Regions from separate parts of the Homo sapiens genome. Here region 2 is linked to region 1. The links come from fine-mapping of genetic effects on gene expression. Tissue or cell type: whole blood. Region 1 holds a variant in brackets; the other region holds the start of a gene. All regions are shown on one strand. Distances are between the middles of the regions.

Evidence for each region. PIP is the estimated chance that this variant, and not a neighbour inherited with it, causes the effect.
Region 2: CLTCL1 starts here. The variant in region 1 is fine-mapped to the expression of CLTCL1 in whole blood (TOPMed, PIP 0.98).

Annotation. Positions count from the first base shown.
Region 1 is chr22:19,509,813-19,517,812 of GRCh38, reverse strand. CDC45 (cell division cycle 45) reads right to left here. Exons shown (of 19, transcript NM_003504.5): 14 at 2,926-3,064; 15 at 2,765-2,848; 16 at 1,168-1,286; 17 at 920-996. Among named protein-coding and RNA genes, the nearest start is that of CLDN5, 11 kb to the left of the region's middle. RefSeq lists enhancers at 2,329-2,829, 2,830-3,330. The variant C/T (reference allele first, on the strand shown) is at 3,610.
Region 2 is chr22:19,287,044-19,295,043 of GRCh38, reverse strand. CLTCL1 (clathrin heavy chain like 1) reads left to right here and starts at 3,325. Exons shown (of 33, transcript NM_007098.4): 1 at 3,325-3,444. The coding sequence starts at 3,403. It overlaps LOC105372859 (a long non-coding RNA gene), which reads right to left and starts at 3,097. Exons shown (of 6, transcript XR_938002.3): 1 at 2,714-3,097. RefSeq lists silencers at 3,207-3,446, 3,328-3,512 and an enhancer at 3,623-4,136.

The DNA of each region.
Region 1 (8,000 bases):
TTAAGTTCAAATGTGGTTGTTAGGGTGGGCTCTAATCCAATCTGTCTGGTGTCCTTGGAAGATGAAACGGTTTGGACACAGACACCAAGGAGGTATGCAGAGGAAAGACCACGTGAGGACACAGTGAGAAGGTGGTCATCTGTGTGAGCCAAGGAGAGAGGCCTGAGGAGAAGCCAGCCCTGCCCCACCTTGACCTGGGCCTTCTCGCCTCTAGGACTGGGAGGAGACACGTGGTTGAAGCCACCCTGTCTGTGGCACTTTGTTATGGCAGCTTTAGCAAACTAACCCGGGGTGAAATATCAATACGTCTGTTTTACTTTAAAACCTGTCAACAATAATAAGAACGCCAACACAGCCGAATGTGAACCATGTTCCGTGCTGGTGCTGGGGAAGCAGTGGGCAGGCAGGCCTATCCATTCTGGGCTCATCTGACACACAGGTGGGGCCGGTGTCCCAGCCATCTCACAGGTAGCACCTATCACGACACACACCCCGGCCTGTGGAGAGGTGGCTGGCGCAGCAAGGGTTGGTGTCCTGGGTCATCACGGGCCCTGCTGTTCCCTCACCCCATGAAACAGAAACAACCCAACCCTGACAGGTGAGATCGGGGCACACGGGCCCTGGTGGCCAGTCCCCTAGGCTTGCTGGGAAAGTGATCCTTAGCACTGGCTGTAAGGCCGCTGTAAGGCCACAGCCAGGCCAGTCATTCCCTGGAAAACACTTTTTCCCTCTCAGGGGCCTGAGGTTCACCAGAGCTCCCTGAGCCACCAGGAGTAGCCTGTCCCAGGGCCAGATCTGGAAGGTCAAGAGGGCTGCTGGCCAGGCTCCTCCAGCCATGCCAACTTGCTTGGTTCCAGGGCCTGCAATAGCCTCAAAGGGTCAGGTGGGAAAGTGTGGCAGAGTGGCAGGAGACTCTCACCTGAGAGGTCAAAATGGTTGTGCAGCATCCGGGAGCTGGTGCTTTCCGCTGCCTTCTCAAACGCCCTCCCAAAAAAGCTGCTGACACACAAGACATGTCGGGGGCCAGGCGGCCTGCAATGGACCCTTCCCACCCCCCGCCCCAGGACAGACACTAGAGGCAAATACCACTCTACTCAGCAGGGCTAATAAGCTGATAACCCCAACACCCCCGACCCTCCAGTCCCAGGACGAGTGGAAGCTGCTCACTTCTTCCTGTCCGAGCTGTCGGTCTCTGGGGGGATGCCCACCACGGTCACTGTGCCATGCTCCATGCTCAGGGGGGCAGCCATCACCAGGGGCAGCAGTTTGCAGCGCCGGTTCTTTGTCTATGGAGTCGGAGAGCACCCTCCGTCAGGGTATGGTGGGCCCCAGCTCAACACTCAGAGCCCAGAGCCCAACAGCGCCCAGTCACTCCACTCCCCAAAGCCTCCAGGGACGCTGTCACCAGGAGACGCCTTGGTCCCCACCCAGCCACCCCAAGTTAGATGCCCAAGGCCAGTGTCTAACTCCCAGTCCAGGGAGCTCTCCAAACACCTGCCCTCCCGTACCCACAGCATGGTACTGTGGCTGTGATGCTGTGTCCCCGAGCCTCCTTGTCTACCAGCCTAGCCCCACTGCCCCTTGGCTGTTTGTTGCAAGGAGCCTGCCCTGCTATCCTCTCCCTCACCTCCTTCAGGTCCTGCAGCAGCTGCCACCTTCTCCAGGAGGCCCCAGCCCACCCCGCCTCATCCTGCTCCATCCCCTGGCAGCACATCCCCTCATCTTAACCGCAGCTGCCACTCCTCGTCCCCCCCGCCGGCACGCTCCTTCAGGATAAAGGTTTAGGGTTTCCTTCTCTGCTGTGCCTGCTGCACCCACACCCTACAGCCCAGGTGACCAGTATTCCTGGTGTGTCTAGGACTGAGGGGTGTCCCAGGATGTGCACCAGGATGGGCAGTCACTCCACAACAGGGCCGGGCAGGTGGTGGATGTTCAATACATGTCTGGTAAATGAATGGATCCTGTAAAGTGGGTATGTGTTCACCCATTTCACGGATGAGGAAACTGAGGATCAGGTCAGATCATCTACCTCACGTCACACAACTGGCAAATGAGGAGGCTCATCTTTGAACACAGCCTAGAGGACGTCAAGGCCCATGCTCTGTCCCTAGTTTATCTTTGACATTACCTGGTTGATAGAACACATGTCATCTGTCATCATTTTACTGGTTAGTTCAGCGGCAAAAGAAAAGTTCAACTTCCTGTTAGCACATTTTGTTTGAAATAGCCCCCGGCATAAACTCTCATCCTCGAAGCAGAGGAGGACTTCAATTATTGACATGTCACATCTGGGAGGAGCCCCATGTCGGCTAGGTGAGGACCCCTGCCCTAAAGCCAGCCAAGTTAGGAGTGTGTTCCACGCCAACGCAAAGAGGGGGTTAGGCCACACAGAAGACAAAGCCAGGCACAGGAAATCAGCTTAGTGGACAAGCTGTTGCTGGGAAGCCAGTCGGTGCTACAACCATCCCGCTTTCCCTGACCTGCAACAATAGGACACAAGCCCCAGCCCTGTTCACTCTGCAAGGGCCCCTCCCTACTTGTCTGAGTGACTTAGACAGCCAGTGATGAATCAGAGCTTGAGAGAACTGGAAGGTTCCTAGGGGTCAGCTGAGAAAAAGACAGCTCAGAAAAAGTAATGGATGTGCCTAGACCTTGCAGCTGGTCAACAGCCACAGGCACCCCAAGGCCAGCATCTAACTCCCCATCCAGGGAGCTCTCCAAGCACCTGCCCTCCTGTACCCACAGCACCCGCCTGGCCCCTCACCGAACACACAAAGGACTTGAGCAGGTGTTTGCTGAGCAGGCTTAGGGATGCCGGCCTAGAGAACAGCATGACATCTGGAGTGCCCTGCGGAGGCGAGACAGATGGTCAGACGAAGCCACTGGTGCTGTGACCAGGCGCCTGTGCTCTGTGGGAAGCCTGACCTCCATGAGAGAGCAGTACAGGAAAGGCCCCTGGGAGATGACGAGGTTGGTGCAAAGGCAGCTGGCAATGGTCTGCTGGGTGGCTCGCAGCTGCTTCTTGGCGAGTTCCAGGCCATGGTACAGCTTGTCCAGGTTACTCCTGTAACAGGGCAGACACATGGCTTTGGTGGTGCTTGTCAGGAACTCTTGGTAAAATACCAAAGTCACAAATAGTTTGCTTGGTTCCTGGTTCAGGAAGAGGTTTGGGGGTAAGAATTTATCTTCTTTCCCTCCTGAGTTGTCTTTCACATGAAAGGAAAGAATTTTTTAAAATGTATAAACCCACAGTAATGCAAATGAGAGGTGGAGCGGGTGCAAGTATCAGAAGACAGGAAACTAAAAGCCAACAAAGGGAAGATCCTGAAGGCCCAGGAGGACTCTGACACAGGGGAGGCTTGGGCAAGGGCTGGAGGTTGGACAAGGGATCCCCTCAAACCCAACAGATAGATTTTTACTCTTCCCCACAAAAAGGGAGGCTCCCCTCTGAGTATATGAAATGTACCATCTGTGAATAAGTAGAATCCTCAAGCAAAGCCTCTGGGCCCTACAGTGGGGAGTCCCAAAGTGTCACAGTTGGCTCCTGCCTGCTAAGGTGAAACGATGTCTTATGACCAGTGAGCTGTGCCCAGATACCCATGGCCCAGC[C/T]AAGGGTCCACAATCCCGTTCTTGAATATGAAAGACATCAGACCATTTGAGAAATGCCTATGGCCTAAAAAAATAACCCTGAAGAAACAGATAATTTGGAGAACTAAAGAAAGTTAAACTGAACTCTAATTAGTATCTTCAGAGAGATGTGTGCAACTCTTACATTCCTAAACCAAGAACAGGATGCTATGAAAAAGGAAGAGTTAAAAACTAGGAAATGTTGATGGAAATTAAAACAGTTGCAAAAGATAAAACATCCACTCCAAGTCTGGAGTCAAGAAAAACTTCCTCAACATAGATAACAAGACAAAGCTATGGAAAATGTAAGGCAAAAAAATAAGACAGAGCATCGTCATTCCAGGAAGCCTGAAAAGCAAGAATAAAAAACACGGATGTTTTCTGTGGGGGGAATAGTAAAGAAATAGTAAAATAAAGATATTGTCAGATATATAAGAACTCAGAAAGTTTATCTCACATGCGCCCTTTCTTTGAATGTTACTTAAGAACTGTGCTCTAATTTAATGAGGGAGTAAATGAAACAAAGATGAAGATCCCAAGAAACATTGGACTAAACTAAGAGGCACAGCCAAGATTTGGACATCCATGGGGACAGTGGAAAGCAGGTCTAGAGAGCTGTAGGTCCAGGCTGTGGTGGGAAGACAGAACCCCAGACTCTCCAGCAAAAAGGGGCTCACAGAAAAACAGCTGGAAGGAGTTTGGAGGAGAAAAAAATGGATGTGATAAAGGAGGCAATTAAAAACAGCAGGAAAAACAAAGAGCCGTGCCAGATAGTAATCTATTACTACACATGATTGTCTCTGGAATAGTTTATTAGCACAATAAAGTAAAACTATTTGTTTACTTTCAACTTTTAAAATCAACCTGTAACCAAAGATAAGACAATTTATATCTTTTTCTCTAACCCAAGATTGTTATCAGTCTTGAAAACGTAAAAGCACAAATTTCAGAAAGTACTGAGCAGCACTGAAGAGCAAAGTAAGGCTGTTTCTACACCTTGGACATTTGTCCCCTCAAAACCTCATGTTGAAATCTGATCCAAGATCTTCGAGGTGGGGTCTAGTGGGAAGTGTTGGGTCATGGGTGCAGACCCCTCATGAATAGATGAATGCTCTCCCTGGGGCTAGGGGGTGTAAGTGAGTTCTTACTCTATTAGTTCCCGTGACGGTTGTTAAAAAGAGCCTAGTACCTTCCTCCTCTCTCTTCCTTCCTCCATTGCCACATGGTCTCTGCACCCACCAGCTCCCCTTCTGCCATGAGTGGAAGCAGCCTGAGGCCCTCACCAGATGCAGATGCCCAATCTTGAGCATTCCAGCCATCAGAATTATGAGGCAAATAAACCTTTTCTCTTTATAAATTACTCAGCCTCAGGTATTCCTTTATAGCAACACAAAATGGACTAAGAGTGTTTTAAATATCCTTTTCTTACAAAGTAGGGAGACGAGATACTAGTGATGAAAGAAGACATAAATATGTTAAAGTTACAAAGAAGTTAAAAATAGTGGCAAAACTGTACCAACAGGAGGGAAGGTGGACAAGAGTGGGATAAATGCTCCTTTGTCATAGCAGGAAGTTGGTAGACAATGTCTAAAGCCTACCCATCAATGCTGGGATGATGGCAGCAACAGTGGTAAAATAGTTTTTGGATTTTCCCAAATTTCTAGATAAAAGTAGAGCAACTAGATTGCAAAACCAAAAACCTAGGACCCACATTTGCAACAAATTAAGAGAACAAGGGAACACTTCAAACCCCAAAGTGTAAGCAGGTAAAAAGAGACCATGAACAGCCAGACAGGTATACTATCTACATCAGTGCGAGAGAAAGCCAAGAGGTAGTGAGACCTAAGAAGACTTAAAACTCCAGGCAACTGGAGAGCAGCGGCCCAAACTGAGAGTTTTGCCCTATGCAAGAGCAGGTGAGTGCAGTGGGCCAAGGGAAAGTTTAAGGAGCCTCCCTGGAGTGCAAGGAGTCCTGGTAATGAGCAAGGGGTCCTGTTAAACAGCAAGGGAGCCTGGTAAAGTATAAGGGGGCATGGTAAAGAGCAAGGGGCCTTGCTGAAGTGTAAGGAGACTATAGTAAAGAGTAAGGGGCCCAGCCTGACCAACATGTCTCTACAAAAAATACAAAAATTAGCCAGGTGCAGTGGCACATGCCTGTAGTCCCAGCTACCTGGGAGGCAGAGGTTGCAGTGAGTGGAAATCATGCCACTGCATGCCAGCTTAAGTGACAGAGTAAGACCCTGTCTCAAAAAAAAAAAAAAAAAAAACCTCCAGTGAATCATACTCCTAATGTAAGGGCTAAAACTATTAAAGTGTTAGTAGAAAAAATAATGTGAAATCTTCATGACCTTGGGTTAGGCAATGGTTTCTTAGATATGACACCAAAAGCACAAGAAACAAAAGAAAAAGTAGGTAACTTAAATGTCATCAAAATTAACAAATCTTATACTTCACAGGACACTGCCAAAGTGAAAAGTCAGCCTACAGAATGGGAGAAAATACTTGCAAATTACTTATCTGATAAGGGATTTGTATGTAGAATATATAAAAGTTTTAGGCTGGGCACGGTGGTTCATACCTATAATCCCAGTGCTTTGGGAGGCCAAGGCTGGAAGACTGCTTGAGCCCAGGAGTTTGAGACCAGCCTGAGCAACATGGTAAGATCTCATCTCTACTAAAAATTTAAAAATTAGCAGGTGTGGTAGCTCATGCCTGTAATCCCACCTATTCAGGAGGCTGAGGTGGGAGGATGGCTTGAGCCAAGGAGTTTGAGGCTGCAGTGAGCCATGACTGCACCACTGCACTCCAGCTTGAGCAACAGAGTGACACCCTGTCTCAAAAAAAAAAAAAAAAAAAGACAAAGGACTTGAATAGACAATTCTCCTAACAAGATACACAAATGACCAATAAGCACATGAGAAGATGCTCAACACTATTAGTCATCAGTAAAATGCAAATCAAAACCATAACGAGATACCACTTCATACTCACTAGGATGAATGTAATCCAAAAGATGGACAATAACAAGTGTCGGTGAGGATGTGAAGAAATTGAAACCCTCCCTCCTGGTGGGAATGTAAAATGGTGCAGCTGCTGTGGAAAAGTCTGGCAGTTCCTCAAAAATCTGGCAGTTCCTTGAAACCTAGTGTTACCATGTCACCCAGCATTTCCACATGTAGGTATATAACCAAAAGAAACAAAGACATGACTACACAAAAACTTGTACATGCAAGTTCACAGCAGCATTAGTCATAATTGTCAATAGGTGGAAACAAACCACATGCCCATCAACTTATGAATGGATAAATGAAATAGAATATATCCATCCAATGGAATATTATTTATAATAAAAAGACACTGGCCGGGCATGGTGGCTGATGCCTGTAATCCCAGCACTTTGGGAGGCCGAGGCAGGTGGATCAAGAGGTCAGGAGTTCAAGACCAGCCTGAACAACACGGTGAAACCCCGTCTCTATTAAAACTACAAAAATTAGCCAGGCTTGGTGGCATGCGTTTGTAATCCCAGCTACTCGGTAGGCTGAGGCAGGAGAATTGCTTGAACCCAGGAGGCGAAGGTTGCAGTGAGCCGAGAGCGTGCCACTGGACTACAGCCTGAGCGAGAGTGAGACTCTGTCTCAGGTGGCGGACGAGGGAAAAGACATATAATCCCGATACATCCTACAATATAGATGAGCCTTGCAAATATGATGCTAAGTGAAGAACCCGGTCACAAAGAACCATATCTTATATGATCCCATTTGTATGAAATGCTCAGAACAGCCAATTCATAAAGACAAAAGGGAGACTGGTGGTTGCCAGAGGCTGGGAGGATCTCTCTGGGGCAACAAAAATGCTCTAAAATTAGATAGTGGTGATTGCTGCACAACCTTGCAAAACCTAACTGCAACCTACTAAAAGTCATTGCAGGCTGGGCACAGTGGCTCATGCCTGTTCCTCCCAGCACTTTGGGAGGCTGAGGTGAAAGGATTGCTTGAGCCTAGGAATTTGAGACCAGTCTGGGCCACATAGTGATACATCTTTACAAAAATTTTTAAAATTAGCAAGGCGTGGTGGCATGCACCTGTTGTCCCAGCTACTCAAGAGGCTGAGGTAGGAAGATTGCTTGAGACTGGGAGGTCAAGGCTGCTGTGAGCTATGATCATGCCATTGCATTCCACCCTGGGCAACAGAGCGAGACCCTGTCTCTAAAAAAATAACAATAAAATAAATAAAAGCCATCACATTGTACATTTTAAATGGGTGAATTGTATGGCATGCAAATTGTATCTCAATAAAGCAGTGGAAAAAAAAGTGTGCTTGGGAGCAGAACCAGGAAATCCCAGAAAGCAGGCCCCCATATATACATATGCATC
Region 2 (8,000 bases), 220 kb after region 1:
TCCAGTGACTTTTTCTTTTTTAAAGACAGGGTCTTTCTCTGTTGCCCAGGCTGGAGTATAGTGGTACGATCATAGCTTACTGTAACCTTGAGCTCATGGGCTCAAGTGATCCTCCTGTTGCAGCCTCCCAACTAGGCCTATAGACATGCATCACCATGCCCTGTTAATTTTTAAATTTTTTTGAAGAGATGGGGTTGACCAGGCTGGTCTTGAACTCCTGGGCTCAAGCAATCCTCCTACCTCAGCCTCCCAAAGCGCTGCGATTATACGCCTCCACAGACTTTTCAATTCCACCTATAGGAAAGTCCCATGGGAATTGGAATTTAGCTATAACATGTCGTTTCTTGTACCAGTTATTAAATAATGTCTTTCAGCTCTATTCTCCCTTCCCACCTCTAGACACTGCTTCTGATGCCAGGGCTGAGACTCTAAAAAACATATTTCTCATTGGCAAATAAAGAAGATCTGATCTAATATTCCCTATTAGACTAAGCTGATAGGTTGATAGAGGGAGACCACAGGGCCACTTCCTGTGAGCATCACCCCAGCTAGGCTTCTTCAACAAGGCAGCAGCACATTCTTCCCACAGAAGCTGAATCCAGTTTAAGTTTTTCCAAGACTTGCAGAACCAGCCTCAGTATGCCTTCTCCTTAGAGATCTGGGTGAGAGTCTCCCAGTGCCCTCTTTAGAGGGCTTACTCCCAGCTCCACAGCCACCCCTCATCCATAGTGTGTGTCTAAGTCCCGTAGGGACCCTCCTCAGAGGTCTGAGTCCCATCCCCATGGGATCTCTCCTCTGGGCTCAATGACCCCAGCCCCAGCTGGTCAACACACCTCCTCAGAGATCTGAATTCCAGCTCTGCAAGCCCTTCCTTTAAGCTGTAATAATTCCAGCTTCTCTTTCATCTTTGAGCTCTAGGGGTGGTAGCTGTGTCCTATGTTTGTAACTCCATATCTTGGGATTTTCTTTTTATTATTTTAAATTTACTTCCTGTTAACTATTGTTTATATTCAGTTCCCTTTGTTTAAATAACTGATGCACTTTCTCTCTCTTCTGTGGTTTGAAGGTTTGTGTCCCCTTCAAAATTAATGTTGAAACTTAATCCCGGGCCAGGCGCGGTGGCTCACACCTGTAATCCCAGCACTTTGGAAGGCCGAGGTGGATGGATCACCTGAGGCCAGGAGTTTGAGACCAGCCTGGTCAACATGGTGAGACCCTGTCTCTACTAAAAATGAAAAATTAGCCAGGTGCGGTGGCGTGCGCCTGTAGTCCCAGCTACTTGGGAGGCTGAGGCAGGAGAATGGCTGGAACCTGAGAGGCAGAGGTTGCAGTGAGCAGAGATCGTGCCACTGCACACCAGCCTGGGCGACAGAGCGAGACTCTTGTCTCAAAAAAAAAAAAAAAAAAAAAAGAATTGAAAGGTTTTTTTAGGGTTACTTAGCAAGTTACCTACAAGTGGTGAGAATATTAAAGTCCCTTTCAAGTCAGAACATTTAATTTTTTTACAAGTATATTAACAACTTTATTTCCTGTTAACTACAACTATCACTTATATTCACTTCTGTCTATTCAAATAACTGTTGTGCTTTCTGTCTCTTCTATGGTTTGAAGAGACAGAAAGATTTGTGTCTCCTCTAAAATTAATGTTGAAACTTAATCCCCACTTGAGGTCCCGACGTATTAACAATCCTGTCACTTTGCTTAACTATGATTTTCTTAAATTCTTTCTTTTAGGGTATAAAATTTTAGTTTTAATCCCCAAAAAGCCCTGGGGAAGGTGATTTAGGGAGTGATGGTATTAATTACTAAAAAATTTATATAATGTTTGGGGTAAAGGGTACTTGGAGTCACAGGCATCATTGCCAAAATAAAGAGATTTGGGAAATGTAGTACTAACCACAGCAAAACCCAGCTCTATATTTAGCGGATGAGGCCACATGGATTTTAGAAAGGGCGGGCTGCAGAGGTCTTGGCTAATACTGGAAAAGAGATTTAATTTGAAAGTGAACAGTCTGTTCTATTCCTTAACATATTTTTGGCTACTAGATGGTCAAGCCATTGCGCAAATAATTGCACCATCCTTGTCTTATTCAAGGTGGGCCGTTCATTTCTTAAAATTACCAGTGAGCAACATGGGAAGCAGCAGAGACGGCTATCGATTACCCCGTAGGGAGTGCCTGTGCTGAATGCCAAGGGCTTCCCTTTCCTGACAGACATCTTTTATGCAGCTGAATCATCTGTATGCAAAACATCAGCCAACGGTGCCTCGGAAAAACAACTGGCTGCTGGGCAAACCAGGTGTGGGCTCCAGCTTCCACCTGCTACTACTGTCGTGCAGCCACGGGCACTCTGGGTGATCCTCACTGGCCTGGGGCTGGTCATCTGCTGCTAGATGACCTTCGCTGACTCTCTACATTGATATTCCGACACAGTGTTCTCTAGAAACCGCATGAGCCAGGAAAGGTGTTTCCTAAAGGAGCAGGGGCCGAGCCTCACGCCGAAACACGTCTGTAACACGTACAGTCACGCGTCCCATGCATCCATGCATTCTGAGACATGCGTCTCGGTTGTGGGATCATCACAAGGTAACTTACACAAACTCAGATGGCACAGCCACTACACAACTAGGCAGCTGATGCGGTCCGCTGCTGCTAGGCCGCAAACCCGCACCGCGTGTGAGGTGCGTTATTCCCCTGGCACGGTAATGACATACCTGTACGTGTATCTCCAAATACAGGAGAGGAAATGTCCTTAGCTAAGCCCTCACCAGAGGACAGGAAGTTTCCAGCTCCGTTATCATGTTATGGGACCACCGTCATATACACGGTCCTCCTCAGACCAAAAGGTCGTTCGTTATACGGCACATGTGGTTCTTCCAAGACCCTTTTCCATCTTTCTGTCACATCCGTGCCTGAGTAAAAAGTGGCCCTGAACTCAACCGTCCAGAGTTGGCGGCAGAACTAGCACCACTGGCCCGCTCCACATGTGGAAGGCGCTGGGCAAGGGCCGCCGCAGACCCCATCAGGATTAATCCCCCGAAAACCTTTCACTCGGGTAGCTGGCACACACCGCGTCAGGGCAGAGGGCGCGCGGGACTACTTTCCGCGGACCCTCGGAGCGGGCGGAGGGATCCGCGCAGGCGGGACGGGGCAGAGGCGGGGGCAGGGGCGGGGGCAGGGGCGGGGGCAGGGGCGGGGCAGAGGCGGGGCAGGGGCGGGGCAGGGGCGGGGGAAGGGGCGGGGAAAGGGGGTGCGGGCCGGGGCGCGGTCAGGGAGGAGGGCGGGGGCCAGGACCGGGAGCTCGGGGCACTGCGCCTGCGCCGTCGCCACCGGTCAGCCCGCGCGAGGGGTCGGCGTTCATTCCTGCCGCTGCCGCCGCCGCCGCCGAGGTCCCGCACCAGCCATGGCGCAGATCCTCCCTGTTCGCTTTCAGGAGCACTTCCAGGTGAGGCCCGGCGGGCTGGGGGGCTGCCCTGTCAGCCGCGCCTCCGCCGGGCCGGACTGCCAGGCTTGACCCCGCGCCCCCAGCCCCGCTGAGCCGCTGCCCAGCTGGCCGCGCCGATTTCCGACCTCCCACCTGGGCTGGGGCTGCGGCGTCCCGGGCGCGGCGGCCGCTCCTGAGGACCCGCTTGGGTGCCGTCGCCGAAGCCCGTTACCGGCGGGGCCGGCTGGGGAATGGTGGGGGTGGAAGCCAACGCCCCCTGGGACGCCCCGCTCAGTGCCCGCGAGGAGGCACACAAATTCCCGCTGCAGGCAGGGCAACCCAAGGGCCGCGCGGATCCCACAGCTCCACGCCCCTCCTTGGCGTCCTGCGGTCCTTATTCGCCCCTGAGTTTGCCTCTGTGATCGGTTTTCGTCCCCAGGGCGGCTTCGCCTGGGAGGACCGTGAACATGCGTGACCCAAGAGAAAAATTTCTCAGGGCCAAGCCTAAATAGGGCTTTTCAATGCAGTAACACCCCCAAAGCCTGCCTTTTTAATAAGGTCCCAGTTTGTTCTCCATTTGTTTGTGTTCAGAAACATAAGGACTGGCCCCCTGCTTTGAGCAAAGGCTCAGGTCGGGCGTCGTGCGGGCCGCTCGCGGGTCTGCCCGGGAGCGGTGCTGGTCCCCACGTTTACCCTGGGAGGTGCGGCAGAGGAGGGATAGCCAGCGGCTCCTCCCTGAGTGCTCTGTGTTAAATCATCACACTACCATTCGTTGCGATTCGCTTACTCTTTTCTAGATGAGGAAACCGAGTCTCAAAAGTGTTAAAGAACTCATCTTCATTCAATAAGAACAGGATTCAGACTCAAGTCTTTTTGACCACAAAGTAGTACATCGAGGAACGTGCTTGCTTGAAAGTTCCTATTTTCACAGTGCAGAGCACTGTTAGCCCTAGATGCAGACGGGAAAAGCCTTGGGAACTGTGTAGTGCAGTCCAGTCCCCTCATTCTGCAGACTGGAAACTTGATATCCAGGGGATCCTGCCAGGGTCACTTGGTTAGTGACACAGTGGAAGTTGTATGGAGGTGGGAGTGCCCTGACATCTGTCCGGGCTTCATTCTGCCACTAAGCTAAGCCAGCACCAGTCATGTTGAGGTAGCAAAATACTGCTGCTGCTCATAATAATGATGATGATGTAGTTATCATTTACTGAGCCGTTTCTCTTGCCACTCACTAGACTACTGTATTTTATAAATCTGGTTTAATTTAATCCTCATGATAACTGAGGCAGATAGTGATATCCTGTTTTCTACCATGGGTCACTGAGGTTAATATTCTAATTCCTTCAGCAAAAGTTACATGGCTAGTAAGTGACAAAGCTTGAGTTCTAACCCAGGTCTGATTCCAATGCCTGTGCTTAACCACTATCTAAATATGTTCTTTTCAAAGGGCAAGAAAGCAACAAGATATTTTAGGTGTCCATCAGAGTTTCTAATGTCCATCAGGATTTGTAATGTCCATCAGAGTTGATATGTTCCATTATCTGGAAAATGCTTGTGGCTTGTGGTGGGCAGCCACGTGAATGCAAGTCTGGTTTGTGGTCTCTAACACTGACTGGGTCTTTGAGGCTGCTGTGCATTCTGTAGAGCAAACACTGAGTCAGCACACACTGCCTTCACTACAGACATTTCGAGACTTCAGCCTGTTCCTTAAATCCCTGATCCTGCCACTCCTGCCTTGCAACCAGCAGATGACTTGGAGAAAACTGAAGCCATAACTGGGATGTTTCTCACCTATATGGCTGCAGACTTAGATGTTTGTCTGCAGCCACCCTTTCCTGCCTTCCTGTTACCTCAAAAGTAGGTGTCCTTTCTTGTCTATGTTCTGGATCTGGTATCCTTCTTCCCTATAAGGGAGCCTCGTTCAGTCATAGCCTCCCTTTCCTGTATTTTCATCCTTCTGTCTTGTTGTTTCTTCCTGTTTGTGTTGGGCAATGCTCACCTCTCTTCCATCTGTACAACCAGCAAACTTCTTCCCCCGCTCTTGTCCCCACGAAGCTCTTGTCTCATAGCTGGATGTCATGAAAGAGCTGCTTTAGTGCTTCATTATTTTTATGTTCCACAGTAACCTGCAGTCTGGCTTTTGTCCCCATTTTTTCCCCTGAATCTGTTTTTGCCAAGGTTACAAGCCATCCTGCAGGCTTTTTTGTAAGGGCCACATTCTGTCTCTGTCCCATATTCTTACATTTTTTAACCTTCTAAAAATATGAAAAAGACTTTTAGTTTAGCCATACAAAAGCAGGCTGCAGTTGGCTAATCTTTGCTGTAAAAAATAAAATCAGGCCGAGCATGGTGGCTCACACCTGTAATCCCACCACTTTGGGAGGCCGAGGCGGGTGGATCACCTGAGATCAGGAGTTCGAGACCAGCCTGGCCAACATGGTGAAACCTCGTCTCTACTAAAAATACAGTATTAGCCGGGCGTGTTGGTACGCACCTGTAGTCCCAGCTAGTCAGGAGGCTGAGGCGGGAGAATCTCTTGAACCCGGGAGGCAGAGGTTGCAGTGAGCCAAAATCATGTCACTACTCTCCAGCCTGGGTAACAGACCGAGACTCCGTCTCAAAAAATAAGATGCGATGAGCTAGGTGAGATAAAGCCCATCACACCACACGCATCTTCTGTGATGTCCAGCCGCATTTGATGCTGCACTTTACTGCCTCCTGAGGGTCCTTTCTCTACTGTTTTTGGTTCCACAGTTTCCCAGGGTTTCTCCTTCCTCTCTGCCCACACCCACTGCCCCATGGGCGGCTCTTGTGCATGAGCTTGGAATCTGTCTTGAGCCCCTCTGCTTTTTCATTCAGGACATGCTGCTGGTGATGTTATGTATTCCCATAAGCTTGATGTTCCCAAGCCATCCGAGTGTTTTCGCAGTTTCACTGCTGTGTGTGTGTGAGGCAGTAGCAGGTCCTGGTTAAGAGCACAGACTGAGGCCAAACTGAAGGCACTGAATGTGGACTCAGGCACTTACTGGCTGTGTGATTTAGGGCAATGTTTGTAGCTTTTTTGTGCTTCTATATCTTCATCTATAAAATAAGGATAAAAGGTATACTTCTTATCTCACAAGGTAGTTGTGAGGTTTTTGAGTTAATAAATGTAAAGCATTAAACAATAACTGTTACATAATACAGTAGTCCCGATTTACCCATGGGGAATATGTTCTAAGACCCCCAGAGGATGCCTGAAACTGCAGATTGTTCTGAACCCTTTATACACTTTTTTTCCCTATGCATACATATGTATGATAAAGCTGAATTTATGTTAAGCACAGTAAGAGATTAACAATGATAACTAATAATAAAACAGAACAATAATAACAATATGCCAGCATCACTACTGTTGGACTTTGGGGCCATTATTAAGTAAATTAAGGGTTACTTGAACACAAACTCTGTGATGCTGCAACAGTCAACCTGGTAACTGACCGCTACTAAGTGACTAATGGGCTGGCAATGTCTACAGCGTGGATATGCTGGGCAGAGGAGGGATAATTCACGTCCTGGGTGGGCTGGTGCAAGATTTCATCACTCTGCAGAATGGTATGCAATTTAAAACTTATGAATTGTTTATTTCTGGGGTCTTACATTTAATATTTTCAGACTATAGGTAACAGTGTGAAAAAAACCACGGATAAGAAGGGACTACTGTAAAGCACTGTGTCCTTGTGAGCTGTTGCTGCCATTGTGACAGCTGCCTACTGAAGAAGGCCAGGAAATGGTCAGCAGGTTCCTCAAACACAGTGTTCATAAATGGGGTTCCCTTTCTCCCCAGATGTGTATCTTGTCCAGTGTCCAGCCAGGAGCCTGGGATGTGTTTTCCCCATCCTGTTGTCCCTTTCTCCTGTTTACTTTTGGCATCGTTCTGCCACTGTCATCATGACTACCGTTTCCCTAAACTATGCCATCCCTCCCCACCTTGATGGTCATGCTAGCTTTGTCCTTCTACTTCTAGTCTTGCCCTCCTGTGATCCATTCTCCAGCACACAGGCAACATGATCTCCAAGGATGAGCATCTGCTTAAAGTCCTTCAGGGAGTGGTTTCGTGTTTCCTCTGGCATGAAAAGACTGATCCCCACGTGCTCTTTCCTGTTCTTCCCAGCCCAACACCTGCTCAACTCTGCTGCCGCTCCCTTTGTGTCCTTGCCAAAACACATTCTCCTCTCACCCCTCTTTACTCACTGACTCCTACTGAGCCTTCTGGTATCTGTGGAAATGACGCTGTCTCTGGAAGCTCTCCCTGATTTGTCAGTTAGGAGTTCTTCCTCTGTGCCTCTTTGGGGTTCCTCTTATAATGACACTCTTCCCAGGGTACTGTAGCTGTTCATTTTCTCTGCTGGATTGTGAGCTCAGGGAGCTACCATTTGAACTTTTTAGAAATATTCAAATGTGAGAGTTGGAAGGGTATTGCTGTTTGTAATATCTGAGGATGGGCTGAGCACTTAAGACATCTTGATTCAGAAGAGGAATGGCTGAATAGTTTGGTGACATAAAAATTTTCTTGAGCCCTAAGTAATTCCCCCCAG